3 separate regions of the Homo sapiens genome follow, and all the other regions are linked to region 1. The links come from fine-mapping of genetic effects on gene expression. A gene starts in region 1. Each other region holds a variant in brackets. All regions are shown on one strand. Distances are between the middles of the regions.

Evidence for each region. PIP is the estimated chance that this variant, and not a neighbour inherited with it, causes the effect. A credible set is the group of variants that fine-mapping cannot tell apart.
Region 2: its variant is the best candidate, but not a certain one, in a credible set for the expression of SKAP2 in esophagus muscle (GTEx, PIP 0.61).
Region 3: its variant is the best candidate, but not a certain one, in a credible set for the expression of SKAP2 in lung (TOPMed, PIP 0.81).

What each region holds. Positions count from the first base shown.
Region 1 is chr7:26,860,118-26,870,690 of GRCh38, forward strand. SKAP2 (src kinase associated phosphoprotein 2) reads right to left here and starts at 4,473. Exons shown (of 13, transcript NM_003930.5): 1 at 4,246-4,473. The coding sequence starts at 4,312. RefSeq lists an enhancer at 4,711-5,040.
Region 2 is chr7:26,720,992-26,731,564 of GRCh38, forward strand. It overlaps SKAP2 (src kinase associated phosphoprotein 2), which reads right to left. Exons shown (of 13, transcript NM_003930.5): 7 at 5,891-6,015; 8 at 4,932-4,995; 9 at 4,437-4,574. Among named protein-coding and RNA genes, the nearest start is that of LINC02860, 88 kb to the left of the region's middle. The variant G/T (reference allele first, on the strand shown) is at 5,748.
Region 3 is chr7:26,651,718-26,662,290 of GRCh38, forward strand. It overlaps a transcript of SKAP2 not described here. Among named protein-coding and RNA genes, the nearest start is that of LINC02860, 19 kb to the left of the region's middle. The variant A/C (reference allele first, on the strand shown) is at 5,363.

The DNA.
Region 1 (10,573 bases):
TAGATTCTTCTTTTTGAAGAAAACCAATGATAATTTGGATTGGGTAGCTATAAAAACTGTACGTAGTATCAAGAGCCTTATATAGTAATGAGATGAAAATACTTTCAATGGACAGCCATGCCAAAAGATCTCCTCCCAAGAAAAAGCAGGACATTATATACTTAAAATAGGCAAATAATTTTCCTAACACCACATCTTAATTCATCTATATTATTTAGCCCATACAAAAAACTCTGTAAACCTCTAGTCCCTTAATTTACATATATTCCTATTTCTAGAAAAGAATATCTTGGAGGTACGATAGATTTCATTTTGAGATTAAATGTTCTCATATCAACTTTATGCTCTTTAGTGATTGCTGCCCAAATGGGGCAGGCTTGTTCTTGCTCCATAGGAAAACCCAGGTGCTAAGGAGGTAGGTGACTATTGGTGACTCAGTAGGTGGCACTCTTCCCTTTACATACTCAGCCAATGTCCCAGAAGGAAGTTATGGGACACTAGATACACCATAAATAATTCTCATAGGAAAAATAAAACCAAAATGTTGACCAAATTATAAATGGAACTTTGGAAAGGTGGAAATTAAACCGTAATATACTCAGCATTGAAAAAATTCTGCCTCTATTTCAAATAAATTGCACTCTTCACCTAGTGCCCCTACAGGAATCCCTTTAGGGGACTGATTACATACCCTAAATAATATTGTGTGAAAAAAATATTCACACATTATAATCAATGTGTGGGAAAAAATTTTCTAATGTTCTAAAAATTCCCAGTAGGGAAAATGTGGTATTTCTAATCAAGAGTGCCATGTGAACAAAACCTCAAGATCACTTATTTATTGTTTGTTTGGTTTGGTTTGATTTTTCAGAGCACTAACAATCACTATTTTCTTCTTTTAACAATGGTTTCATTTGCTAATTTAGTAAACAGAAAATAACATCTTCTTAGAGCTTTCCTTTTAAAATTTGTTGTCCTAAAACAAATGAATGAGGATGAATGAGAAGGTCTGATTGCAAGCCACTAACAAACCATTATTTAAAGGGTGATTAAACAAATGAAGGAGGCTGGAGGGAAGTGGTTCTAGTTCCTCTTACTTTCTTGCCTGTCTAGAGAAAAAAAAAAATCACATAAATCAAGATTATTCTTGCTGCTAGTCCTAGTCAAAATATTTGGATGTGAGAGAAGATTAAATGGACAAGATTTGGGATTGTCCTTTGATTTCAATTATCCAGGCTAAACCTGTTTTTCCATTGTTGTAGAAAAGAAAAAAATCAAAGGTTGCCTGTAATGCATATGGCAGCTCAAAATTTGCTTTCAACAACGAAATTCTGTAAGTCCTTTTCTGTTCATATAACCAAAAGAATAATCAACATTTTATAAAAAGCATAGGTCTTCAAGACTGACTCCACAGAAAATATAACTAAAAATCAAACTAGATAGCCACTTTTTCAATGGTATCTTTACACAACACATGTGAGTTAACAATAACAACCTCTTTTTTTTTTTTTTTTTTTTTTTACATTTCTATGGAATGGTTTTTATAGGGGAAGGAAAAAGGGAGAGGGAACAAATGTTGAAAGTATAGCATAGAACTGCCATAATCAGACAGAAAAATAAAGAGAAAGAAAAATAATAAATAAGAATACACTTGAGTACCTATCCCTTTTAAGCAGGTGAAATTTCAAACAGTACATATGACATATAATGATTTAGTTTAATAGGCATATGGAACACAAACAGATACATCTAAGCAACATTATTTTAACAGTCATTATCTTTTGATTATATATTCTTCTTTCTAAAAACAAAGGACTTTAAACCCCTGAAAAGTTTAGTTCCTTATCTTCTCTACCTTGGAATTCTAGCATAGTACCATGCATTCTAAGAGCACTCAACTGTTAACTACAACACCATTACCAATATCTCCTCAGTTTCAAAGAAATAGACTAAATAAGCCAGCAATATCTCTAATATTCAAACCAATATAAATACTTCTATAATGTTACTCTAAATCTAGTCATATACTATTACCCAATACACTTGAATTATGAAAAGAATCATGTACAATGCTAACAATATTTTTAGATGAAATACATGAAACAATTGCTGACAGCATCTATTCTTGAAGCGTTCTCTACCTCAAAAAAGATTTTAATTACAGTCAAACATAAAATGTTAGCAACTTTCCAAATAAGTTTTTTTAAAACCTGAAAAACACTGATTTGTTAAATTTCTTTAAACATAAATACGCCCCAACTCACTTCCATACTTCTTGAAAATATCCTCTGAAAATAAAGTGTAATCCAAATTTCCAATTCCAAAAGTTTTAATTGTAATATTTTTTAATACTTCATGTGTGTTTTAATATGTGATTTGCTTTAATAATATAAAATAGTGAAAATGTCAATAAAATGACTTAAAATAATTTCAGATGCTATGCTAGTATATTACCTGACTAAAGAGAGAAGGCAGAAATATATTGGAAGTTAGCATTGGCAGATAATTTAAATATGTAATTTTGAGTTTTTAGTTAAATTACACAAATAAGGGCCACAGGAAATACTTGTGATCTATGGGGATAAGAGAATAAAGGTTCTCATGACCTACATATCATATTATCTGTGATTTATGATTATGGATCCAAATAACAAACTGTACTATGGGAGGTACCAAGCTTTAAAACATGCACCCAGAGGTCTATATGTTATTTCTTAAATTCAAAAATACAGACATAGAATATCCTGAAAATGGTTTCATCTATTTTTGGAATAATGATAAACATTTTTCTGCGCTGGTTATTACAATAATATTCTGAACAAACAATTCCAGCATTGTAAAAACAAAAAATGTTAAGTGTAGTAAAACAAAATCAGTAGTCATGTGATGCAATAAAGCTGCCTGAAGTCAGTCTTTAGACTTCTTTAACTATTTCCCTTAGTGGTACCCGTTAATGACAACAAGCATTTCTTAGAGTGAAAGACTATCCCACCACAAATGCATTCAACATACTGTACCATAATCATACAAACATAAGTCTACATTCATACACTTAATATTACACTACCATATTAATAATGCCAAGCACCAAAATTGAATGACAGAATATTAGGAGATTTGGACTCACATTGCTATAGGAGTAACATATAAAATGTGTCATCAAATGTCACATTTTAGATGACATTGCTTTTTAAGAGCTAGAATAAGCAATCTGTAATCTAGTTATTCATAAGCAATACTGAGAGATAAATATTTTATAGACATCTAAAACTAAAAATCAAAATTCAGTTTCCAGAATTCTGACGTACACAAGACAAAATAAATGATGGTTGAAATTCCAGAACATTGAGATAGGTAAGATTTGTGCTACCTTAAAAACATATATTTTCTACCTTGTACAGAAATATAAATTATTGGTTCTTAGTGAACATACACACCTCCGTATCCAGTAAATTAATGAACTAGTAGTGGATTCATAATGCTACTGAAGAACCACGTTTTTAGCTCCTAAAATAAGTTCCTATAAATGGTAATGTAAAACTGAAAAAGGGAAGATAAGGGTACAAAGATGAAGTACTTTCATCGTGTCACACAGGAAGTAGAACTTTAACATATCCTTCCTTTTTTGCTTTAATATATTACTGAGGCTGGGGACAAGTGGCCATTTGAGAACCAGACCTTCTTCAAAAGTCTTAAACGTGAGTGAGCTGAATGTTTAAGAAAAACGGGAGTTTTAGAAATGACAAACTCTTTCACCCCATAACCCCTAACACCTGTGGCTCTGACAGCTCTTTGCATCTCTACATCCTCTACCTCCATTGGCCAGACCACCCAAGAACTACTTATTTGACTTCTGCTCCCTTCTGCTTGCTCACGCAGCATTCATTATCATTATCATTCTCTCTCCCTCTTCCACTCTTCCTCCCCCGCCCTTCTGTCACACACACACACACACACACACACACACCGTCTTCACAATGCACATAGAAACGTCCTGATCCCATTTGTGTAGATCACCAAAAAGGGCTTCGCCACCATCCCCGCACCAAATTTCAACACACACGTCCACTCCCTTTCTGAGACAAAACAACCCCTCTCCTCTCCTCCCTGTGCCGACCCCACTGGCTAGAAGACGTGGGAAGCGCGGGGAGGGAGGATAAGGGCTCTGAATGCTTCTGTCCCCACCGGCTCACCGTTCCCTCGCCCCCGCCCCGACAGCATTATCGCCGCCTTCCCGCTCTTTACCTGCCAACAGGTTCCTAATTTCCTCAGGGAGGGGGTAGGGAGAGGAGGTGCTGCTGGGGTTGGGCATGTTAGGGAGCGCAGGGCGTGCGGGGAAAGGACCTGCGCTGAAAAGGTGACCGACGGGGTGGGGCTGCGGCTGCGACCTAGACTCAGGCTAGCGGCCCGGATTAAGAACAGCGGGGCTACGAGTCGGGACACTGCCGGGCCGGGGCTCACAACAAGGAAGTCACTGAATCTCCAGCGAGCTGCAGCTGGACTGTCGGCCCAGCCCCGCCCAGAGGGCCGGGGCGGGGAGATGGGTGGGAAGGGACACGAAGGGCCTGAGGGGTCCAACTGCGCATGTGTATTCCTCGGTTTTCCCGGCCCCAGAAGAAAGAGCCTGTGGGCAAGCCACGCCCACCGCTACGCCGGGAAGCAGGAGGAGGAGCCACTGGTGGGAAGGGGGCGGACTGAGGCTGCGTCACCTGATGCTGCGTCACCTGATCCAGCGTCCGGAGCGCCTTACAGCCATTTTCGGTACTGGTGCCATCACAACTGCTGATCGTTTCTGCAGGATTCCAGAAAATAATGTATCCATGATACAGAGTGTATACAAGTTTTGCGATTACGCCTTCTGCGTAACAGTCAGTCCCACCGCAGTTTAACCCACAAGGAATTTTCTCTTGTCCTAAACTATTATGGCCTTCTTTGTCCGATTGAACGGAGGTAACGAAGTCTCGTCTTCCGCCAGTCGTCCGGGCGAAGCCAGTCTGGAGCCGCTCCGGAGCGCGCGTTGTGATTGGCTCTTACATTACTTTTCTACCTAATTCGTATCCTTGGGGTGACAGATTTTCCCCACTACAAGGAAGACTGGGAAGTTCTAAGCACCGTCCTTTGGCAGGAAAAAACAAACAAAACAAAACAAAAAAACAGAAGGCCGAATAGACATTGGCACCACTGTCCATCTACAAGCATCAAAAATAAAATTGCTGGTGGTGGTTAGTAGAATAAAATTATAAAATCTGCTCACTCCAACTTGACCATTTAGTCAACAAATACTTACTGTCTTCTATCTGTAAAGCTTCTTAAAAGTTTTCTCTTTTAAAAAAAATGGCTTCTTTAAAACCTTTAACAGGCATACATCTTTGTGCTTCCCAGATATTGCATTTTTTAACAAATTGAAGGTTTGTGGCAACCCTGCATCAAGCAAATCTGTGGGCGCCATTTTTCCAAAAGCATGTGCTCAGTTCATGTCTCTGTCACATTTTGGTGATTCTAACAATATTTCAAACTTTTTCATTATTATTGTATATGTTATGGTGATCTTTGAAGTTACTATTATAATTACTTTGGGACATCACAAACAGCACCCATATAAGACAGCGACTGTAATCCATAAATGTGTGTGTTCTGACTGCTCTACCAACCCTATACCTTCCTCCATATCTCTCCCTCTCTTGGGCCTCCCCATTCCTTGAGACACAACAATATTGACATTAAGCCAATTAATAACCCTACGATGGCCTCTGAGTGTTCCAGTAAAAGAATCATTTTACTTTAAATCAAAAGCTTACTTTAAATCAAAAGCTAGAAATGATTAAGCTTAGTGAGGAAGGCATATTGAAAGCCGAGACAGACCAAAAGCTAGGGCTCTTGCACCAAACAGCCAGGTAGTGAATGCAAGGGAAAAGTCCTTGAAGGAAAGTAAAAATGCTACTCCAGTGAACACACGAATGATAAGAAAGCGAAGGAGGCTTATTGCTGGTAAAGAAACGTTTTCATGTTCTGGATAGAAGATCAAACCAGACATAACATTCCCTTAAGCCAACGCCTAATCGAGTGCAAGGCCCTAACTCTCTTCAAGTCTACGAAGGCTGAGAGGTAAAGAAGCTGCAGAAGAAAAGTTGGAAGTTAGCAGAGGTTGGTTCATGATGTTTAAGGAAATAAGCCATCTTCAGAGCATAAAATTGTAAGGTGAAGCAGCAAATGCTGGTGAAGCAGCTGCAGCAAGTTATCAAAAAGATCTAGCTAAGGCCAGGTGCAGTGGCTCATGCCTGTAATCCTAGCACTTTGGGAGGATGAGGCGGGCGGATCATGAGGTCAGGAGATCGGGACCATCCTGGCTAACACAGTGAAACCCCGTCTCTACTAAAAAAAAGATACAAAAAAAAAAGAAAATTAGCCGGGTGTGGTGGCAGGCGCCTGTAGTCCCAGCTACTCGGGAGGCTGAGGCAGGAGAATGGCGTGAACCCAGGAGGCAGAGTTTGCAGTGAGCCAAGATTGCGCCACTATACTCCAGCCTGGGCGACAGAGCGAGACTCCATCTCAAAAAAAAAAAAAAAAAAAAAAAAATCTAGCTAAGATATCTGATGAAGGTGGCTATACTAAACAAAGAGTTTCAGTGTAGATGAAACAACACTTATTGGAAAACAATGCCATCTAGGACTTTCGTAGCTATAGAGTAGAAGTCAATGCCTGGCTTCAAAGCTTCAAAGGACAGGCTGATTCTCTTCTTAGGAACTATTTCAGCTGCTGACTTTAAGTTGAAGCCAATGCTCATTTACCATTCTGAAAATCCTAGGGCCCTTAAGGATTATGATAAATCTACTCTGCCTGTGCTCTATAAGTGGAACAACAAAGCCTGGATGACAGCACATCTGTTTACAGAATGATTTACTGAGTATTTTAAGCACACTGTTGAGATCTACTGCTCAGAAAAAAAGATGCCTTTCAAAATATTGCTGCTTATTGACAATGCACCTGGTCACCCAAGAGCTCTGATGGAGATATACAAGAAGATTAATGTTTTCATGCCTGCTAGTACCACATCCATTCTGCTGCCCATGGATCAAAGAGTAGTTTCAACTTTCAAGTCTTATTTAAAAAATACATTTCATGGCTGGCCATGGTGGGTTACACCTGTAATCCCAGCACTTTGGGAGGCTGAGGCAGGAGGATCACTTGAGGCCAAGAGTTCAAGACCAGCCTGGGCAACATAGTGGCACCCCATCTCTACAAAAAAAAAAAAAAAAAAAAAAAAAAAAAGAATAATTAGCCAGGTGTGGTGGTGTGTGCCTGTAGTCCTAGCTACTCATGAAGGTGAGATGTAAGGATCCCTTGGGCCCAGGAGTTCAAGATTACAGGGAGGTATGACTGTGCCAGTGAACTCCAGCTTGGGCCACAAATGAGACCCTATCTTAAAAAAAAAAAAAAATATATATATATATATATACACACATATATATACATATATATACATATATATATACACACATATATATATACATATATATACATATATATACCTATATATACATATATATATACATATATATATATATTATATGGCTATAGTTGCCATAGATAGTCATTTATCTAATATATCTGGGCAAAGTAAATTGAAAACCTTCTGAAAAAGGTTCACCATTCTAGATGCAATTAAGAATATTCATGATTCATGGGAAGAGGTCAAAATGTCCAACATTAACAGGAGTTTGGAAGAAGTTGATTCCAACCCTCAGGGATGATTTTGAGGGGTTCAAGACCAGTGGAGGATGTGGTGGAAATAGCAAGGGAACTACAGTTAGAAGTGGAGCCTGCAGATGTGACTGAACTGCTGCAATCTCATGGTAAAACTTGGAGGTATGAGGAGTTGCTTCTTATGAATGAGCAAAGAGAGTGGTTTATTGAGATGAAATCTACTCCAGTGAAGATGCTGTGAATACTGATGAAATAATAAGAAAGGATTTAGAATACTACGTCAACTTAGTTGATAAAGCAGTGGTTGGAGAGGATTGACTCCAGTATTGAAAGAAGTTCTACTGTGGGTAAAATGCTAGCAAACAACATCACATGCCACAGAGAAATCGTTCATGAAAGGAAGAGTCTCTCAAGGCAGCAAATTTCATTTTTGTTTTATTTTAAGAAATTGCCACAGCCATCCCAGCCTTCAGCAATCACCACCCTGATCAGTCAGCAGCCATTCACATTGAGGCAAGACCCTCCACCAGAAAAAAGATAACATGCTGAAGACTCAGATGATCATTATCATTTTTTAGCAATAAAGTTTTGGGGGTTTTTTAGAGATGGAGGTCTCTCTATGTTTGCCCAGACTGGCCTGGAACTCCTGGGCTCAAAGGATCCTCCCACCTCAGCCTCCTGAGTGGCTTGGGACTACCGGAATGTACCGACATGCCCAGGTGCAATAAAGTATTTTTAAGTAGGTGTGTTAGTTATTTTTCCAGACATAATGCTACTGCATACTTAATAAACTACAGTAAACATAATGCTTATATGCACTGGGAAACCAAAGTATTTGTGTGACTCACTTTACTGCAATAGTTGCTTTATTGGTTTGGTCTAGAACCTAACCTGGAAAATCTGTGAGGTATGCCTGTTTGTGTGTGTGTGTGTGTATACACTCATGTATTTATTACATATATGTACGTATATACATATTTATTACATTCAAGTGCCTCTTAACCATTAAAATCCCTCAAAACCTGGTGCGGAACCATCAACGAAAATGAAGTCGCTGAAATCCCTGAAGAACACAGAATAGAGGCTGAGGAGGAAGGCTTCAGACAGAAACTTCCTAGGCAAAGCATTTAGTGAGTATACACTGTGTATTTCTCTTAGTGAAAATATCATTGACAACATGAGTCATTGAGATGCCCCCTGCCACACCCTCCATCTCTGCTTGGCAAGGCACGTTTTCAAAACCACGCAAATGTCAGCTTCTATATTAAGCCTTCACTTAGATTTCCCTTGGTAGAGATAGTGGCTCTTTCCTAGAAGTTACTATTATATCTTACATTGTTCCTGGGCTCCAGTCACATTGTAAATTGTTTATTCCTTTACCCTCCAACTTTCACTAGATCAAACTATAGTTTTCATTAGAATCACAGAGAGAACCTATTACATTGTGAATTCTCAAATCCCATCCCCAGAGATTCTGAGTCAGTCTTTTTAGGGTGGGGCCTGAGAATCTGCGTGTTAAACAATCCTCAGCTGTAGCTCATGCCTGTAATCCTAGCACTTTGGGAGGCTGAGGTGGGTGGATTGCCTGAGCTCAGAAGTTTGAGACCAGCCTGAACAACATGGTGAAACCCCATCTCTACTAAAATACAAAAACTTAGCTGGGCGTGGTAGCATGCACCTGTAGTCCCAGCTATTCGGGAGGCTGAAGCAAGAGAATTGCTAGAACCTGGGAGGTGGAGATTGCAGTGAGCCGAGATTGCGCCACTGCACTCCAGCGTGGGGCAACAGAGCAAGACCCTGGCACTGAAAAAAAAAAGTCCTCATAGGTGAATGCAAGACATCATGAAATTTCATTTTAAGAATCACTTTGCTACTTCCCAGCTCCTACAGGGCACAAAATTTGTTGTAACTTATCTTTCATCCTCAGCTGGAACCCTAAACCTAACACAGAATAACAACTTTATTAATAGTTCATCAAAAACACTTCAGACAGTCTAATAAAAAATTAGAAAGTCAAATGCAGTATGACATTTTTGTGTAATTCTCTGAGATAAAAGTAAACTAGTTATAAAAGAAAAAATAGAGCATTTTCGAGTCTGTATCTTGCCTCTCAAAACAAACAAACAAATAAAAGACAAAAACTTTACGGCTGAAGTAAAACATGCAAAAATAACAACAAAAAAAGACACCCCTGCAAACAAACCCATTCCCCAAAATGGAATCTGAAATTCCTACCCAGATTTTAAAATGTGATGAATTATAGAAAGAGCACTGAAAATTTGAATTGTTTTTGGTGGAGGTAAAAGTAAATAAATAGTCATTTTACAATATACGTCTTCCAACTTCAAAGAATTGAGAACTATTTTTCTTAAGCTACAAAATTATCTTCCTTCCTAAAGAAGAAAACAACTATTTCATGGACATTTTATATTAGGGAGGATTCTTCCTCCTTCTACAGTTATCACACATAATTCTTTGTCTTGTCACATTTTTTATTAAACCAGGTTTCCAAATGTCCCAATCCTTTGTTTCCTTCTGATAGAACTGAACCTGTTTTTAAATTCCTGTGTCTCATTTATTTACTTATACTCCACTCATTCCACTAAGGAATTGAGGTGATTTGCTCTTGTATCAAATAGACAGCTTTCTGGAGTGGATCAAATGGACAGTGTCTACACTGCTCATTATGACAAGTCATTCTTGTTAGTGAGAGACAGGAAACTATTAAGATTACCTTAAAATATATAGCATCTCATAGTCCAAATAAAAAAAGGCAATAACAGAAAATGGACTTTTTGTGTGAAACACATTTTCCCTATTTAGGAAGCCATTCTCAGACACAGGTCCATGATAGATTCACTTGGGCAAT
Region 2 (10,573 bases), 140 kb before region 1:
ATTGATAACTTCACCATTCAGTACCTAGTTTAAGAAAAAATAATGTTAGCAGGCTGCCTAGACTAACAATATTAAAATACTGAATATATGTGGTTCTATGAAAATTAATTGACATCTTTCCATTGCATTCCAAAGAAGAAAGGAGAAAAATTGTTTGGTGAAGTCAGGATCTACTATCACTTAAAACAATGTTAATACCACAGACTGCAGGGTCCCCTGTAACCCTGATATTAACTTAGTAATATGAGTGATAATTATTCAGGAGGAAAATAAAGCCAAAATGTATTTTGGGGGCCTATAACCACTTATTGACTAAATTAGCATTTGTGTCCATTTGCTGTAAACTACTTCAAATTAAAGTACCCAAACACTGTTCTTTTTTATGTATATATAATAGTCTCATGGAAAAAAATTATAGCTGCATTTTACTTTATGTTCTATTTTAGATGCAGATAGTTGGACTGAATACATTTAAAATGTAATTGAATGGCCAAAGGATAAAAATATCCTTTTCTGACTCAGAATAGTTCAATCTGTCATTGTAATTTAAAAAAAAATGAATTCACACTTAAAAAAAATAGGTTAATGGAATAGAAATTTGTCTTCCTGTTTTATGTTGCCCTCTCTCCTCCAGTCCACTTGCCAGAAGACATTTCAAGTGCAATCCCTCTGAAAGCTACAGATTTAATAAGTTAATGGATGGTTACCATTCTCATTACTAGGCTGATTCTATTCAGTTTAGATCTAGAAAAATCTTTTTGTTGTTGTTGTTTCTGTACAATTTCCTGCCATTAAAGAAAAAAAATCAAGTGACATAGTGAATAGAAGAGAAGAGCAAACAGGGTTGGTTTCTGCAGCAATTTCACGAGTATTATTTTCCCCTTTTGAGATTCAAAATGAGACAAAGACACTCCTCTGTATTTCTAATGAAAAAGTGAGCAATAAATTTACAAACCTGTGCTGAGCCAAATGAACTCATTACCATGTTAAACAGTTTAACACATTTTGATCAATATATTAGCTGCACAAACACAAATATGCTATAGTATTATTACAATGTAAACAAACCTGACTGGCCTATGCTAATAAGCAATAAGACATAAAAGATGTAAAAGGATTAGGATATTTGAAGAAAAGCCAAATACCTTTAATACTCCCCAGAAATGGCATTCTCGCAACTCTTTTGTACATATGTATAAATCCCTTAAACACAAAGAAGTCTTACAAATTTATTCCTATTCCTTTACGAAGTTAGTTAAAAATAAATGAACAAGAAATTAAACAGAAGGTACTGTAATGAAGTTAGAATATTCTAACTGAAAAACAATTACAATGAAACAATTTAGATTCCTGTAGAATTATAAACATTTTTCAAGGGATATTATGCAATGCAATTTTTTTTTTTTTTTTTTTTTTTTGAGACACAGTCTCACTCTGTTGCCCAGGCTGGAGTGTAGTGCCTCAATCTTGGCTCACTGCAGCCTCCGCCTCCCGGATTCAAGTGATTCTCCTGCCTCAGCCTCCTGAATAGCTTGGATTACAGGCACCTGCCACCATGCCCGGCTAATTTTTTATTTATTTTTATTTTTTTATTTTTAGTAGAGACGGGGTTTCACCATGTTGGCCAGGCTCGCTTCGAACTCCTGACCTCAAGTGATCCACCTAACTCGGCCTCCCAAAGTGCTAGGATTACAGGCGTGAGCCACTGCGCCCAGCCCATTGCAATTTTTAAAACCACGTTTTCTTCTTACTCTTGAAACTCAAAACACTGCAGGTTTATTTCATAGTTTTTAAAAAATACACTTATTAGAGTAAGAGCTTTCGTTTCTCAGAAAAAGAGCTTTGTGATTTAAAGTAGCATAATAAATGCTTAGATTTCTCTTCAAATACATTTGTATACCTCATCTTTCAACTAAGAGGATTAGTTTTCAACAATGCATAATTGACAGAAAATTGTGTTGAAATTGTAGTATTATTTAATTCTGGGAATTTAGCCAGTCAGATATCAGAGATACATAGTTCTTTGCACAGAACTGGAAAAATATCAACAGTATGTAAATGTGCTTACTGCTCTTCCATTGTTCTAACTCCTCTATCAAAATTATATTCAAATTTCACAGAAGTGAAAGCAATAAGCTTAATTCTTGTCCTGAAAGAGAGACAATTGTTTTAATTAAAAAAGTTACCTTCCTAGTTTCAGACATTTAATCAAACAAAACCTCTAACTCTGAGACACCTTTAGGGCCTTTACTAGAAAAATCCCCTCTGTAGCCGTTGGCACAAACTTGACAAACTTGCTGAACCGTGCAGATGTTGAAGCAGCTCTCAGTTACATTGGGGAAGAAGGGAACTAGACATTCCACAGCTGCCTACAACGGCTTCCTTCCCGGGGCACAGGTGCAGGCTCCATCAAGCTCGATCACTTTGCAGAGCAACTGGGGATCCCAAGCAGGGGAAAAGAAATTCCAGGGCAGCTTAAATTTCTCCCAGTACCACAGCAAGAAGTAACACTACTTAAAAAGTAACCAGTTACTTCCAACAATTATGTGTGAGGGTGGGTGAGGAGGGGGGCAAGGAAGAATGAAGAATAATATCTCCAGTAAGAAAAAATAAAAGATGTTTCATATTTTTAAAATTTCAAGCTACTCAGACCTTCCTTAGGTCTTTGTTATGAAAATAACTATGAATATCTGGTCTTTATTCCTGATCAATTTTTTTTTTCTTTAGGGGTGGGGAGAGAACAGCCAAGTTGAAAAAATACAGAACTTAACAGTTATTTCAACAATTGTAATGTAACACATTCATTGCAGGGTTTTAAAAGGATGTAATGGCAGTAATATCGTGTTTAAATGTATTCCACTCTTCCATTTTATGAGTATACATTCTCACAAGTTCTTTTAAACATTTTTAAATACTAAAATAATTGTATTAATGATATGGTGTGACCAAAAACAAGCAGCCAGGGAATATTCTTCCCTACTTGAGGATAACTGATGCTACAGCAGATGCCATTTCCTTAGGGTAAACCAGAAAGGAAGGGGTTAATAAACATGTAGCTCCACTAAACAACTGAAATACACAGATCACTATTCCCCATAAAATTATACTTTTATACTAATCTTCTGGGGTAGTAAAATACAATATGTAGATGCATACATAGTTTTTATACCTTAAATTTATAATATTGTTAAAATTATTACTTTTTACTTGGTTAGAAAACCATTACTGTACCACCACATAAGCACTTGCAAGAATTCACCAGATACAATAATAAAACAAAAATGATGGTGATGTTACAATTAATTGTGGGATCAAGCACTATGCTGAAAGCCTTCCATAAATCACTTCACCTACCCCTCCCAATGACATTATTTCCATTTTATAAATGAAGAAATTAACTTATAAAGTCACTAAGCTAGTCAATGGTACAGCCAGAATTTAAATTTTTTTCTTCTAAAGTCCATACTCTTGGTATTATGCTGTATTGTCTTGAAAATGACATTTGTACATTAATTTGGAACATTTTAAGTATTTTTGAAATCAATTTTAAAGGTTTAACATTACATCATTAAATTGTTATATTCAGAGCAAAATGGCCTCTCTACATGAGATGTACTAGTTAAATCTTGCTTATATTGCTTATGATACCTTTTTCTTCTCTAACTACTGATTTTTTAATAGCCAAAAAAGCTCATTTCAGCCTAGAGTATTAGTAATACAATTTCCTAAATGTTTTCATATGTTTCCTAAATTTCAGATGTCTTTTTATTTTAGATTGATCCTCATGGCCGCAAGTCAAGTAGCTAATAGATAATTAATTTTATGTTACATAACAGACAGGCATGTAAACACTAAACTAGGTCTGAGCATTTGGAATAAGAAAACTTTTTTATTCCATATTGATGCTAAAATATCAACAGGAAGACTTGAAGCCTCAAAAGGCCTTTGTTTATAGTTCAACAACATTCCTCTGAGACAGTGCAATATACTACAAGCAAGGAGAAATACGAGGCAGAAGTTGGTAACATCTGGGGTGTGCATAGAACTTCTGGTTAATGGAAGTTCCAAGATGTATAAATAAAAAACGATGTGTGAGTTGGTGGAAAAAACTGTAAGGCAAGTCAATTTTTTAATTAAAAAATTATGTAGCATAAACAATGCTAATGAGCCACAAGTCCCAAGAGATTAGTATTGTATCTGCTTCATTTTAATGTTTCATTCACTTTTCGTAAGTTACATCTACTCACTTGAAATATCTCAAGCAGAACCCTTTTTGTAAAATAGAGTTTTGAAGATATTCTTTGTCCTTGTTCTCAATAGGTCACCATTTTCTACTCAAGCTGTCGAGGACAAATCACACACACAAACACACACACACACTCACACACACACACACAGCCCTAAAATCTTTAAATGAATCACCAGAAAGTAAATACCTGGAAGTTCTTCATAAATTTCATCATCTATTGGTTGACTGCTTGTTAGTGGATTGCTTATTGGTAGAGGATGATCAACATCATCATATAATTCTCCTCTCTCATCATAATCCTCAGGAATAATATCAGATTCCATATCTATAAAACACATTTCATGAAGTAAATTTTAAAAGAATGCAGAAGATATTTTTAAAACTATACTTTATAAATAAATGCAGCCCTACAAAGCAACAACAATATTGTTATATGTTATGTCCTTAACTAAAAACATGTTTAAAAATTGTTTTGTAAATATGTGAATTTTAAAGTAAGCCAATTGGTACTTATAGAAAAGATGCTGTTTAAAATCTGAAGTGAGTGGTCTGTATTAATAACAGTCACATTCAAGTTGGTCATTCTCACAGAAGTCAATAAGCTTTTGTATATGAAAACCCAAACTACTCTGTTATTTAGTATTTAAAGACTGTGATAACTTGTTCGATTGATTTATCTTACCTTGCAATACAAATTTCAGCTGCTGTACCCATTCTTCAGCATCTTTGGGAGAAGCTGCTGTAAACTAATATAAAACAAACAGTAAGAACGAAAATCACCATAGTAGGAATGAAAGGTATGTTGTATTCTTACCATTTCTTTAAGACTATTAGTAATTCTTTTCATGTCTAGTGGAACTTTTCTTGCAAGGATGCTTCTTATAATGTACAGTTAATTTTGACAAATTTATGCAATTGAAGCAGAGGATGATGAATTTCAAACGCTGATCAGCAGCTGGCAGCTGTGCAGGAAAAAAAGCTGCTTCTCTTTCATCAATGTCAAAGACAGAACTGATGAACAAAATTTGCCCTTGACAATTAGAAGACACCCATGAATTTCTTTAGACTGCTGCACACAGTTTTCTTAAAAATGTTCTTGTCAGATTCCAACACACTACCTGACAACTTAATTAACTGGCTTTCAACTGCAATCTCAGATATTTAAAACTTATTAAACATACATTCCATATTGATGCCTAGCTGATAGCTATTGAATTGCAGAGCTGATGTGTACTTTTACCTTCATTTTCTCCCACACTCCTAAGCAATACAATATGTATTATCACTCTGATATTTTTGTTTTAATAATTTTACTCTTTCTGCTATGTAATTCTTTTGGAAGATCACCTAGTGCTATGCAACATGTGATCACCTATGTTCTATGCAACATGTGTGCAACATGTGAAGTAATTGATAAATTATATATTCTCTTTATCTTTTTCAAGAAGATAGTGTGTGAATTAATCTGAAATTTTTAAAAATTTCCTCTTATATGAAT[G/T]TTCAATGCATAATATATTTAAACATCAGTATTTTTATTATTGTTAACATGTCAAGGAAAGTATTAATCAAATGTTAATGTCTCTATAAATGAAATCAAAACATTTTATCAACTTAATTTCAAGGCAACATAAAAACTACAACCTGATATATACGTTTATCAGGAGCAGAGATTTCAAAACAGCAATCTTTCTTTCCATCCTTTCTTAGAGTGTTATTCATTCTGACACTGTAGCCATCTATTGCAAATTCACCTTTCTGTTGTTTGTCTGTTGAAGATAAAACCAGTTAGAATTTCATTTACTAAGTATTAATGCTCAATTATCTTTTATGTAAAATTTCTTCATCAATTCTTGGAAATAACATTTTTTGGTCATATTGCTTTAGTAATATAATGCTTAGGTAATGTTTTTAGAAATCATTTTTAATTCTGAAACATGGAAGTATTAGGGATGATTGGACTTACAAGGAGGTCTGCAGATCATGGTCTTATTTGGAAGGAAGTATGGAAACATGACACTCTAGGGTAGGGAAAATTCAGGAACTAGAACATAGAACTTGCTAGACAAACCCACCACAAACCTTTGGCTCTTTCAGATTTAGTAGGCCAGTGGGAAGATCTGTCCAGCTGAAAACTTGTCGGGCTTTATCTACTGTTATCTCCTTTCACCTATCCCTCCCCAGCACCACCACCAAAAAGAAGCTTCTAAAACAAAAGTTTTCTTTAAAAAAGGTCTCCTAACTTGGTACAAATTTATCTCTAACCTTACAAAGCAAACCAAAACTAAACTAAACTACTCATGACGAAAAAGATGTGAAGGAAAAAAAAACTATGTGGATAAAGAAGAGTGGTAAAGCAAGTACAGAAGCATTAGTTACCAAAAATAGAGGGAAAGTTTCTTATCCAGTCAGTGAACAGTTAAACTAGTAAAGCACATTTGAATCTCACATGATAAAGAGGCAAAAGATGATTACAGCTTTGGTCAGATATTATTTTAAAGACAAGTAAAGTGCGAATATAACAAAGGACTTAATATTCTGAAACTGAAAATAAAATTAGTCAACCTTCCTACTTCACCCAGTTACACCATTTTGATAGAAAAACTATACAGCTATAGGTTTATTTCCTAGATTAACAAACAATATTAAAACCATGAGTAGGGACAAACTCTTTTACTGAGCTCGGGGCAAATACAGAAATGCTTTCGTGTTGTGGGGTGTGCTTTCTCAGTTCAGTGTACCAATAAAAGATACATCTCCTTTTCTTAAATACACAAGTTAAATGCCTAAAGTAACTAACATATGTTAGGTCATAGAGATTATATCTTGTTCAAAATATCAAATGAGAAAAAAAATCTCAGTTCCTGGGAAACTCTAATCACATTTAGTCATAATTTACATCTCTCTGAATGTCTAAAGAAACAATCAAAGTTTATTTCATGAAAAAATTCTACAATAAACTCTATGTTTTTCACAAAAACGATACAGTACTTTAAAGATTAGAGAAGCATTTCCCAAAGATATTAATAGGTTTCTGTGATCAAATCAATTTGGGAAACGTTTTGCCGAATTAAACAAGAGTTAAGCAGTTTTGTTAGTTCAGGCCTTCTTGGAGCCCTTAGTACATTTACATAGTAATTAAACTTCTATAAGAAAAATTTAGTATGCAGCATTTCCAAAAATTATTTGTCCGCGGAATCATTTTTCACAGAATATTTTATGGTACTCCCAGGATATATTTCGTAAGACACCTAACTAGGAAACTATTGGGAAAAAAGTATTAAAATGATAAATGGTTAAGCATGGTTGGTTCTTGTAAATTCTCAAAAAAAGACTAAATCATTCACTCACTCATTTGACAAATTGATACCAAGCACTTAAAACCAGCACGCAGCATTATAGGTTTGCCGAGATAAAAGCTAGAACACCTTATCAGATCTTTCGCGCCACCTTCCCAATGATCTACTAAATTGCAAAAGGAACTTAATGTTCACTACGAAAAGTGGAAGTAATGTGAGGCAAAATATCAAAGCCATATTGGACAATTTTGAGAGAGTTCCTTAAACTCTCCAGAAGAAAGAGAAATTTCAGGGACCAGATTTAGAGGAAAGCTGCTCCCTTGCTGCGCAAGGGTTCAATCGCTCCACTCACCAGGTCCATCTGACCTAAAACCTATGCCTTCTACCTCCAATTTCGGTCTAAAATTCTCATCAATGTAACTTGAATGCAGGTGGAAATGCATGAGGAGTGGGAGTCTACACCTGGAGATATAAAATCAGCACTATAAAGATTTAGTTTGGAAGAGCTGAGGGGAACAGATCTTTCTGGGCCAGATTATCTAATAATCTAGAAATAAGACAATTAGGCAGCAAAATTAGGCAACCCCAACTCAGACTAGCAGATTCATTTTAGCCAAACCCCCTAGAAATATGCTATGGGGCTATGTATCAGAACTTCTGATACAGTCCAAGAGGAGGACAGTATCAGCCTCTACTGAGATGAACCAGAGAGAAGCCACAAATCCAATTTATAGGTAAGCATCTCAGATTTCATAGACATGTACTTGTTCGAGGATAAGAAAAGAGGAACAGCAAATACAGATGCCATAAAAATATTATGTAAAACAGAAACATAACATAGCACTTGAGAAGTAGAAAGCACAAGCGAAGTAGGAGAAATGAAGGTAAACTTTAGCCAACTGCTTTGCATATTTTATAAAAGTAAACAGATTCTGAAAGAGATGAAAGATGAAACAATGTAATATAAAATAAAAAGAGGAAAGGCTGAGACAAGTAGAAATTAAAATGAAACTGGCAAAATAAGGAACAAATATGCTGTATAAGGAAGTGGAAAATGCAGCAGCAAAACAAATGATGTATTAGAAGTGATAAAAAGTAGAACTAACATTGTGGAAAATCAGATCAGATATACCTTGAAAAGCTCACTCAGCAGATAGAAAATAAGAATAAGGGGATGGGGAAGGGACAAAAGGGAGTATGATAAATATGGAGGGCTGACAAAAATACAACATAAGAAAAATGGGTTTTCTGGAAGAAGAGTAATAAATAAATGCCAATAACCAAAGACATAATATAGCAAAAGAAAACTTCATTCCATCAAAGAAAGACCTAACTTTGCAGAACAAAATGTGCTGTTGTTTAACCAAGTAAAAATAATAAAAAGAAACTAATATCTAGACCTATCCAACTGATTGTTTGTATTTGAGGATAAACAATTATATAAACATCCAAGTCGGGTAGGGATATGGGCCCAGAAAGGTTGAACAGAGGAAACTCACAACTCTTTCTAATAGCTTTTGCAGAACCATAACCATGAAGTAGCCATATCTCCAATTAGCCAATACAGGACAGGAAGTTCAAGACGTGAAATGGGCAGACATGGCTATAAGACAACACTGTTCTCCTCCTTTCACATTAGTTTCTCTTCTGGAGAGAGAAACTTCACCATTATGTGGTAAGTCATAAGAATTTACATATAGATTAGTTCCACAATTGCTTTTTGGGATAGTTTCAAGGATACCTGTTAACAAAATTATCAAAAATAGTAAAATGCCAATCAAATAGGAAATAAAGCTATAAAGTCCATTTACCCAGCACTGTGAAAGACTAATATTTTATCTAGGTGAACTTCACAAATAGCAAAAGCTTATTCCTTTAAGTGCCAAAACTTTTAAAAATGTTAATCATTGTGATGGAAAGCTTTCTAAAATATATACTTGCCTAACTTCTCAAACAAATCTTTTAAACATAACATTTTTTTCTTAACATAGTATCATTTTGAGTATTAGTTTTTATAACACATTGATGCCTTCAGAATTTTTGAGGTGTTTGTTCCTCTATTACATTTCTCTCAGCTTCTGTTTCACACTTTAACCTAACCTCTATCATGCTGTTTGAATGTAATGTCTACAGAACTGAAGGCTGCCAGGAAAAACTAGATAATGAAATCTATTATATCAGTAACTTAATTTTACACAATCCTAATTCAGCAGGTTCAAGGTAAAAAGCAGTTGGCTCTGATTTCCTACAAAACAAAATGCATAAGGCTAATAAGAGCAATTTCCTTCTACTTTTTCACTGGCTTTTAGGTTTACAGCTGTGTTCTGGGGGTTTTTTAAGCTGTCAAAAAGACAACTCACATTTACTGAGCTTCTACATGTCAAGAACTTAATAGAACATATCTCATATACACCTGGTAATAATTCTAAGCAATAGAGGAGACATATTATATTCCCAGCACTGATGGGAAAACAAACTTTAACCAATTTGCTCACGGTCACACAAATAGTAAACAGTAAAAGCCAGGACCCTAGGAAAGTCTGGTTCTAAAGCCTTGCTTTTTCAGCCATTTCACACTGTTTTCTAAAAAGGTGTTTCTCAAAGTATATTTTAAGAATCACCTATGTTAGAATCAACTTGGACGCCTGTTAACACAGAATTGGCTACCACTCTGCACTTGCTATATAGGAATCTCTGTGGGTGAGTCTAGGAAACCAAATTTTTAGCAAGCACCCCAGGTGATTTTGATACACACTACAACCACTGTCCTCAATACAATGTGAAATATACAAAATCACGGTAGAGAAGATAAATGTTATTTTGCATTTCGTCCTACAACTTAGGTCAAACTTTCTCAGCTTTCTTTATGGGTTCCTCTACCTCTGCCTATCTCTTAAAAAGCTATGATGCGTTGTTCTAAGTCTTGCTCTCTTCTTACATTACACTCTCCCTGGGCAATCTCATCTAATTCCAAGAATTAAATTCCTATCAATATACTTGTGACTCATGATTCTCTACTTTTAGTTCA
Region 3 (10,573 bases), 210 kb before region 1:
CCAGCCTGGGTAACAAGAGAAAAACTCCATCTCAAAAAAATAAAATAAAATAAATAAATGCATAGCCCCTTTGCAAGATCAGGGCTTCAGAGACTGGACAGTCGGGATAGATCCATTATTTTCTTTTAATGGCCAAAGTCCTTGGAAAGATAAATCAAGACCTGGATCTGAATTTGCTTGGCCAGCATAGACATGAAGACACCTTTCAATAGGCTACTGGGCCTGATGCATAAAGACAACTACACAATCAATGAAGAGAGGGAACAGCCTCAGATTCTGATGACCACTGATGTTTCCAACTGCAAACCATGCCGCACTCTCGAGATGTTCCCAGAGGCCAGATGAGAACAGAGTTCGGTGGGGAGCACATTTTCTTTCCTTGAAGAGATGAAGGGTACCATCCACCACTTAATTTCTGATAAGACATTAAATGTATGATTCTCATCTCTAAGAAATGAAACGCTGAGCTGGATTTTTGGATCAATGGAATACCTACTCCTGTTAAAGCACTTAAAAAGGAAAACATCTACAAAATGTCCCATTAGGCTGACAAATTTATAGCAGTATGAAAAGTGTGCCAGCAGTTTCAAAGCCGAATAGAGCGTTGTGTTTAAAGAGTATGAATGGATCTGAGTTCAGCAATATTTCATCTACATGAACAAGTTTAGCTATCACATCTCTTCCCAATATTTCCCACATTTACTTTTAACTAGGCATACGTATGCCATGACAGAATATGGACATCATCTTTAAAAATAAGTTGTAAAATGAATAATATTAAATGGACTTTCACAGCGTGAAGACGTGGAAATATATTCTCATCTTGATGTGTGGGGCTGTACAGACATAAATGCCATTAGCATTAATGGTAATTATGTGCGTAAATCCCCATGCTCTCAATGAGAATATGCCCCTTAGTTTGCAAGTGCAATGACTGGCTCATTTCTGAGGCTAGAAACAGCTGATACTTTACCCCCTCTAACTGGGAGAAAGATACGGGGTGGCTCAGAGCATAAAATCTGATCACCCACTTTCCCAAAACATGCAATTCAAGCACTTTAAAACTCCTTCACCTCAGAAACACTGAAGATGTAGGAAAAAGCCTCAAACTGCGGTCTGAGTATTCTGGCAATTTATGCTATATCATTCATAGGTTCCTGTCACTTGCTAGGGTGGTTACACTACAGGAGCTATGTGTTCTCATAACAAACTCATTTTATTATGTTCTGATAACGATCGAGGATAATATTTTTCAGCCAACCCAGAAGAGGCTGTTTACAATACAATTTTTCAGAAAGTAAGCAAATTTAGCATCCTGTTCACCAGAGCCAATATATTCTAATCTTATTAAAACAGGCAGGCAGATGACAGACCCCAGGAAAAGGTTCGTGTCTTCTCTTTTCAATTCATAAATTAATAAGGCAGTGTGACCCAAGTGTTTGGTTAGGCTTCACCTTACACGGTAGGAAAACAAAAAAGTCTTCTTGGCCAAAAAGTCAGAAAGCATTAACAGAAAAGGTCGGCTGGTTATAACTTTACAAACACTTCATCAGGGTAAGATGGAGCAAAGTGACATATGTAATTAAAGTATACTAAAAAAACAAGTCATTGTGGTTTTCAATTACAATGGTACTAAGAAGCAACCATATTATTTCTACAAACCATTTTCACTTAGCACAGTTCAGATGGAATTATTGCCATGACCTTTTAAAAATGTGAAAGAGTGAATCAATACCCTTTCAGAGGCAAGACTGCAGGAGCTGAATTGGCCATGCAGTAATGGTGTGTATTTCTGCATCAGAAGGCAGTTGAAACCTAATTATCGTCAATCACATACAAGGTAGCTCCACGTACTGATGAGCCTGTGCAGGCAGCAGCGTGCATGTGAGGATATGGGTGTGGGGGTCTTCACGATAGACAAGCACGTGTGCCAAAGAGGTCAGGGATCTTGGATGCTTTGGGCCAGTGGAGTGGGGCTTACAGGTGAGTTATAGGGACTGTCACTCATTTACAATAACTAACACTGGCCTGTCAGAAACAGCCACCTGTAAATGATGTATGAGTGGCTGGCAGCCTGCCATCCCCCAACAGACCTTGCAGCCAAGAATCACATTTTATTGTCGAGGTCATTGGAATGCTTACTTGGATACATGCCATATATTACTTAAAAATAACAAACAGCCAATGAGCCACATTTCTTAAGGCTCAAGGGCAAAATAGCCAACCTGCTTTTAGAAAATAGGAAACAAACATCCAAGATCCATTTTAACAAGTGATTTTTAAAAACTTGCTTCTCTCCAGATACAAAGAAGCAACACTATGGAGAGGCCTGAGAGTGGTGAAATGATGTCAGATGGGGAGAACACATATGAATATTCACTTTTCCTAAGCTGTTTCAGACACGATGCCAGCAAAAACCAACAACAAAAGCAAATGTCTTGTAATCAACAACAGCGGTAGCCCCAACTGCCAGACTATGAAAGCCATGGAAACCAGTTTGCACAGGAAGGAAGGATCTCTGGTTTGATTTTTCCATTCAATTGCATAATTCTCAAATCTGCCTGAGAATGGTAAAATGATCCTATGTACCATGGCAAATGTTTTTCTTGCACAATCAATCTTTTTATATGCTATCAGAAGGTCATATTGTTTTTAATTTTATTCAGTAGCCTAAATATGGGTAGAAGTCTCAACATTATGCTATTACATTTCAACACAAGAAATACAGCATTATCAAATGTTATGGATATTAAGCCACAAAGAAGTGTTTGGATAACCTCTTGCAACTTTTCTTGAAAATTAAATTTTAAAAAACCTACTCTTCTATAACCGTACAACTGTAAATGTTGTCCCCTCTAGTCTGGTGTTGAAGATCTCTGCAACAATCAGCCTTCACAGCCCTGCTCCACTGGCCCCCACTTGTTCCCACAGAAATGAAAGACTTGGCATATTTGTTACCATTATACAGTAATCGGACAATCTTTTGTTCAATGCTCTTAATGTTCTTAGAATAAAAACATTAAAAATGCACTTAAAAAAATAGGAATACTCATTACACACAAGCAATAGTTTTTAATTGAGAAAAACAGTCTAATTGAAATTACATTTGTTATGCAGACACTACCAATAATTATCTTGGCTTTAAATATGCAAACACAAAGATTCCTTTTGAATTGATAACTCTTTTCAGAAGTGGCGACTACTAGTTGAATTCAGTGATCCAGGGACCCGTTGGTGATATCAGGTGGTCCCCAGGTGTATCAGATGGCCTCTTAGAGCTGCTGTGGTAAAGCATGTGGCAGTCAGTTACAAGTGATGTAACTAAAGGTTGAAATCCTGTGCCTACTATTGCTCAGGGGTTTTGAGGAGATCACCACTGCTAAAAGCAGTGACTTACAGGTAAGAAGGAACTCTTACAGGATTCCATAACTCACTTGCTGGGCTCAAAAACATTGTGCAAAAGCCTCTCTCTTAAATAGCTCATGGCCAGAGACAACTTTAACACCTCTTCTGTATGATAAATCATGTTATTGCAATTTATGTGACACTAGTATCTACTGTACAGTAACCACTCCAAGTCCTCTTAAGCGGAGGCTTCTCAATATACTGATTTCTAATGCCCCACAAGTGCCATAAAGTGATTGCTGTTGACCATTGTCTTGTTTTAATGTCCCCTAAATAATAATAAACTTGAATGCTAAAAAAAATTATTGTCATTCAGGAATATATTTCTTGTAAACCATTGTATGATGAAAAAAATAAATTTCCCTCTTGGCAACTTAATTTGTAGATAACTGAGGTTGTTTTTAGATAGGAGTCCTACACTGAATTTGGAATCTAGGTGACTGTTTAATGTCATTAAGGGAATATTGTATTGGTTACAATGGCTCAGTAAAGTAACTGGTTTCTATGTGGTTATATCAATCTATTTCTGTAACACCGTACACTAGTTTTCCCCCTAGAGTACTCCTTGTAATGCTGAGAAAGTGTCAGAAATAATGACTGTCTACCTATATCTGCAATAAAACGTAGAGCATGGATATTATAGTTGTAAGTATCAAAGATTTATTTCATGACTGCAGGTAATGATGAATCTTTTAGCACAACTAATGTCTGGAGGAAACCTCTCTTCTTCTCTGAGCTGTCACATGGAGACTATTTATAGGGCCCTTAGTGCTGTGGGGTTTTAGCATAAAGAGGCAATGTGTCTAAGGTGCCACTGGATGGAAATGTTAGCAAGGGCTTCCTCTCATTGAAGATCTTTTAGTAGATGGCATTAGATTCCCTCTTTGTGTGTTTACGTCCCCCCAAAGACAGGGGACAGATGTTTAACATCAGCCTATTAATCCCTTAGCCCAGGTTCCTGTGACAGCACAAACCCAACAGAATGAGCCCTTTGCCTTTGCTCAGTGTAAATGCCGCAATTTACTGCTGATTTACAGAACAGGGTCAGGCCATTAGAAACTTGGCAATCCTCAGTACAGCTGGAAAACAATATGCATGATAAGCTAAAATTCAATACCTTCTTGCACTAATTAAATGGCTTCCCACCAGGACAAAAACACAAATTACAATACAGGACTTTTCTGCATCCCTATGCATTTTTCTACAGCTGTGACCAAGCTTTATTTGTATTTTTCTTTTGGATATTAGGTTTTAATTCACTTCCACTCTTTAAAGATTGTGTTCATATCATAGTCGTTCACTGTGTCATTCCACTGTTATACTGTTTCCAAACAAGTTGATAATAACTTGGTTTCCTCTGGTATGAGCAGACAAGTGTACAAACAAAAACACAGATATGTTCTGAAAGCCTTTCTTGAATCTCCGTTATACAGATGTGCAGATCAGTTACAGCTCTTCTCTTAAAATAAACCAAGAAACTATCAAAAATATTATACAAACCCCAAAGAGCTTATTCTGGAATCAAGACAATGAATCTTATTGCAGAAACTCTTTCATAACAACACAGGACAGTAAAGAGCAGGTAACTGGGTTTGAGAATGAGCACTGCTTTTTGAAAGAGTGGAACTTACAAAGATATTTCATACAAAGAGTTAATATGGGTGAAGTACCTCTTACTTTCTATGGTTCATCTACCAGGATGTGTCTCCGGCCCCAGTGCAAAAAAAAAAGACCTTCTACAAAAGCAAGCACCTATACTCCCAGATTATGAGTCTATGAACCCCACGGCTGCCCGAGATTTTCCTGAAGAGTGAATAATATTTAGATCATATGTGGGTTGCCTCCAGATCACCCACTGAGAAGCAGAAGCAAGATTTTGAACAGCTGGAGGTTTAAGTAAAAAACAAGAATAGCTACAGGCTTTATCTTGGATCCAAACGGTCTGAATAATAATAAT[A/C]ATCATAAAGAAATACCTGGTAACTATAAATCTCATCAACCAATGTAAAAGAACATTCTAAATCTATTAATATTTTCAAAGACATTATCTTTCTGCCACCCCACTGCTTTGTGACTTGTTGTATCAGCTATATTATTTGCCTTAAAGCACCATCTAAGTGTTTTTCTTCCCCTGTGAGGGGAATCTTCCACAGCCTTCGCAAGCTACAGCCCACTGCTCCCCTGCAGGAGGACTGGGGTATCATTAACAACCAAAGACACTTAAGGCACAAGTTGGAACTCCAGTGTTTCCAAACCTTCCTGCTTCCCATCAAAATTCATATCCTGTCACTGTTCTAGGAGCAGAAAGGCTTCTCATTATAGCATCATTCCCCTCTTGCAAAAAACACTGATTGCTGCACTGGTGGCTTTGGAAGGCAAAGATGTAATTTAGCAAAATAATGTACCATGCTGATTAATTTAATGTAGCCCATGACTAATTATGGTAATTCATTACATCTACAATTAGGCTAAGTAATTTATTGCACTGCAGTCTCATAAAGCAGAGGATTTATATCGAGTTTTGAATGTCACCCAAAGGACATTTCTGTACCTTGTCTTTACTGAAGCGGAATAAGGCTGCCAGCTGAGATGAGCCAAAGAAAAAAAAAATCCCCGCCCCCCCCGCCCCAACTTACGCACTGACACACACTTTGCCATTTTTGATGTTTGTATTTTGCAATTGAATTCAAGTGCAAGGAGAGTTTTTCCTGATCTCCTCTTTCTTTCTCCTCCTCAGACTGTGCCTTTGTCATGATTTGGTGTTGTTTTTGTTTGTATGCTGCATACCAATTTCCTCTCTGTAAGCTCTGGAGACCTGACACAGGAAAGTGAACAATATATAAGAAGCTATTGCGGTCTTCCCAAATATTATTTGTAGGCATTTGGCGGTGATCAGAGAAAACGGGTAATTGTGCTACTGAGGTCTGTTGCTTATTCTGCAGATAGTACTGCAGTCGACTTCAACAAAGACCTCATCTTCTCTTTGCCGCATGAAAAGGGGACATATCCCCTCACTTAGGAAAGACGCAAACATAGCATTATTTTGAAATACAGCCTCGCTTGTACCCTGCAGCGGGGTTTGCTCTAGCGATGGGGTACTTTGGAGACCAATTTGTTTAGCTGATCACTGTCTCTTTGACGTGGCTGCAAATGTTACCTTTCTTTTTCAATCAAAAACACAGCAGGGGGTGCCATCTGTTTGGCACAGGCCTTAGCTCACTTCCCCAATGCCTTTTTGTGCAGATCATTTTACGTGGCAATTTGCTAAAATCTTTCATTCCTTGGTTTTACTAAATATAAGTTTCCAAAATGGGCTGTTTTCTCAGAATGTCAGCAAGACTCACAAATGAATGCAGTTTTTCCTGAACAGCCAGTATCAGATCAAATGGAGCATTTTTCAGATTTTTTTTTTAATGAACAAATACCTCACTGTCATCTGATTGTTTACTTAAAACTGACATGTTTACTGAGGATGGTGAAAACACATTTATCCTACTGAATTTCACTTCGTTTTCTTTGTTTGGCTTCTACAGAGGTGCACTGTCACCAACACAGGCATCACAATTTTTAAGATCCTTGAAGAGAATAGGTAATGCAAATGCATAGAGCAACCATATTAAATAGTCATTAGGAAACAACAGCTAGCAAGAAAGTGGTTAACTATTTTCCCCAGCTCAGATGCTGTTCAAAGCAATGAATACCCACCCCCCACCCCCCCACCAACTCCAAGTAGGAACAGATGATCAGCACCACGTGCTGAAGCCACAGGGATGCCCGTGGATTTCCAAGTGCTTTGTAGAATACAAATGAATTATCCTCATTCTTCTCCTAGCAGAGCATATAGGCCAGACCTCATTAGAATTCAATATCACTCTGCTTTTCTAATGTTAATGTACCAGTTATATAAGAAATACGTGTGTTGGTGGGGCGGGGGCTTATTCCACAATTATGTTCGACGTGATATCATAATTCTGAAAACTGGACATAATCTTTATTAAAGGAAATTATTGCATTTTGCCGTTTTATCTTTTGCTTCTAATGTAACTTAAATTCCCATTCTAATAGTGGATTATAAGGGCCTTAATTCTTTGTGTCTCTCTTAAAGCTGCAGTGACTACAATACTACTGGCTTTATGGCTTTTTAAAAAATGCCGTGACTAAAGATCAGATTGTGAGGGCTCCATGTCCATCTCACTGTGAAAGGAACACAGCACATTACATTAATAAACAACTGTAGGAGTTTTCTTCATCCAGGAATAACTCAGGGCATTAAGGCTTGAGGTCTTTTGTCTAGAGTGCAGCAAGAGGTGTAATGAAAACAAAAACACCAACACATAAAAATACAATTTATGCCCTTTTATCAAGTGAAGAAAAAGTTGGTTAACGTTTGAAAAGGGAGCAGTAATGTAAATTTATTGACAATTTTATTGTAATAATGAGATGTTTACACAGTCTGGACATTGTGGCTAAATCACTTCTAGCATGTTTATTTGCAGGGAGCTGTTTTCTGGGCAATGCGGCAGGTTCATTAAGAAGACATACAGTATTAGGATTCAAAGAAACAACCAGCTCCCATTCTCCCCTTCCCAGTTATATGTGTGTGTGTATAGTTTTAAATATATATATACTTATAAATAATGAAGTAAAATACAGAATTCCCTTCATAAGAAAAACAACTTCCCCTGTGGCCCCAAAATAGCTTGAAAATAAATGTCGTATTGGTATCTTAATACATAGCATTAGAAAGACAACCTTTAATCACTATAACTAGCTTTTAATACCTAATGTGTAAATGGTAATCTGTTTTTGACTAAGAATAAATTATGGCAGAGTTTAGGGCGGCTCTTGCTTTACCCTTTTCTTCAAAAAACAAAAAAACCCATGGTAATTGTTTTAGATGAGATGCTTCTCTTCTCAACATTTTTTTAAGAGAAAAAACTCATTCAGAGAGAAATATTTCTCTTAAGCAGCCTCAAACCAGATTAATGGATTAAAATGGCACACTTGAATAATGTGACTAAATTTATCTCTATGTGGCTCTTTCATTTTTTGTGTGTTTCTATACTAATCTTTAATATGCTGCTCTGATATGGTTTTCATGTTTCCAAACTGAGCTAAAATGAAAATGACAGATTTTCAGTTATGCAAAAATAGCAATGAAGTGTCAGTAGAAATACATTGTGAACAACATAATTTTTAGGAAAGATGTGAAATGAGAATAATCTTCTAGCATGAAACGGGTCCAATAACAAAATATTCAGGCAATTATATCAATTTTTAAAATTTCAAAACTGTTTAAAAATTAAGGCACTAAATGCTAAGCTACAATATGTTTCCAGCCTCAGTATACATCCATTAAAATTAAGTAGTATCAATACAGAGTATTTATTGCTATAGATCATAGCTTTAGGAGAAGCAAAGGATGGTATACTTATAGCTTGAAATTCTCTACTATAATCACTTAGGAAAAGTTTAGAAAACAGACTTATCTTTAATCACAGTTGCCACAATTTAGTATAGTCCCATTGTTTTCCTTTATCAAAGAGTATGTAATGATAATAATATAAACACATTATAAAAGTAATAGTTTCCCAGCTTAAACTGGTAAGGTTAAGATGGTAAGAGAAACTTTGATTTTAGAAACCAGTGGTAACAGGTACACAATGTGTCTATTTTTTAAGCTGATAGAATTGATTAATGGTTCAAAATAATCAAGGAATCACATCACAAAGCACCGTTTTAAAGAGAAGTGCTAAGAATTAACTCTATACTACCATGACATCATCCGATGTTACCAGAATTATGTACTACATCACGCTATAGATTACAATTGCTAGACTAGAAAATGGAATCTTCAGCGACTCTGCATAACAAATATACTTAATAATCTTAAATAAACTCAAACTTACTTTGATATCTTCTAAGTAATTCACATGAAAAATGAATTTTTAAAAAATCAGTTCATGAAAGCCATTATTATTTGAAGGAATATGCTCAATTTTTTAGATAATTTAAATTATTTAAGAGTCCTTTGCATCTTTTATTAGCTTTGCCTAAAGTTATAACATTAAAGCATTAAGGTTACATGTAACGAGGTTCTGGTTTGCCCTCATTTCTAGCCCCATATTTTCACAAACTACAAACCAAGATTAGTGCTATATTACAAGGCTAATTAGAGAAAATAAAATTGTGTCACTCCTAGATATGCATCTGATGTTTTTTAACTAGAAAGTGTGTATTCACACACAAACATTCATAGATAGACATCTGGAAGAAACAGTTCATAAAAGGATTAGACAATGGGCAAAGGAAGTCAGCACAAAAATTTTCCTTAGAATGTCAGTTTAAAAAAATATTACAACATATACCTAAAGACTATTATTAGCAGATTGGTGGTTTTAAATATCATGAGAAAAGTTTATTTAGAAACTTTATAGACAGAAGTAACATCTCTGTGATTAAAATCACCATTAACAGAAATTGACCATAGCTTGGAAGTCAATGACTTGATCAAAAAATGCATTGAAAATTAAAGGAGAATCAAATCTCAAACTCCTCTAGGATTATTTGCATCAATTTCTGTTATAAATAATAATACCAAGGGCTCACTAAAATTATTTCAAGTAGTATTACAGCCAATGCTGAGTATCAACATTTTTTTCCCTTGCTAGATTTCGGTGTGAAGGAGAAATTATTTGATCATTGTTTCATTTCAGTTCTCATATCTTTAAATGCAGGAAAGCCATGTTTGACGCTATTGTTGATTTTTCAAGTCACTTCTAAACATAATCTCACTTGAGCCTAACCACAATCCTGACAGGGCAGAGAGAACAGGCACCACTGGTATTCCGCAGGGAAGGAAACTTATTCTAGGGCACAAGGCACTAGAGAGTGAAACTAGAATTTTGGTTGACTCCAATTCCAGTGTTCTTACTACTACTCACTTTCAGCTGAATACTGCTGGTACAACTCTGTCTCCAACTGAAGGAAAAGAGTCCTTACTCCTAAAGGGGTAGGGTCACTCTCAGCTTCCAGAGTTATGTTACCATAACTGGTAGCAACTCTGTAAAAGACGTTCACATTATTCATATACACAGCTCTTTGCTTCCCCTCACACTTAATTCAGGAGCTACAAGCATTTTGGAATTTTTTTAAAAATATTTTCATCTGA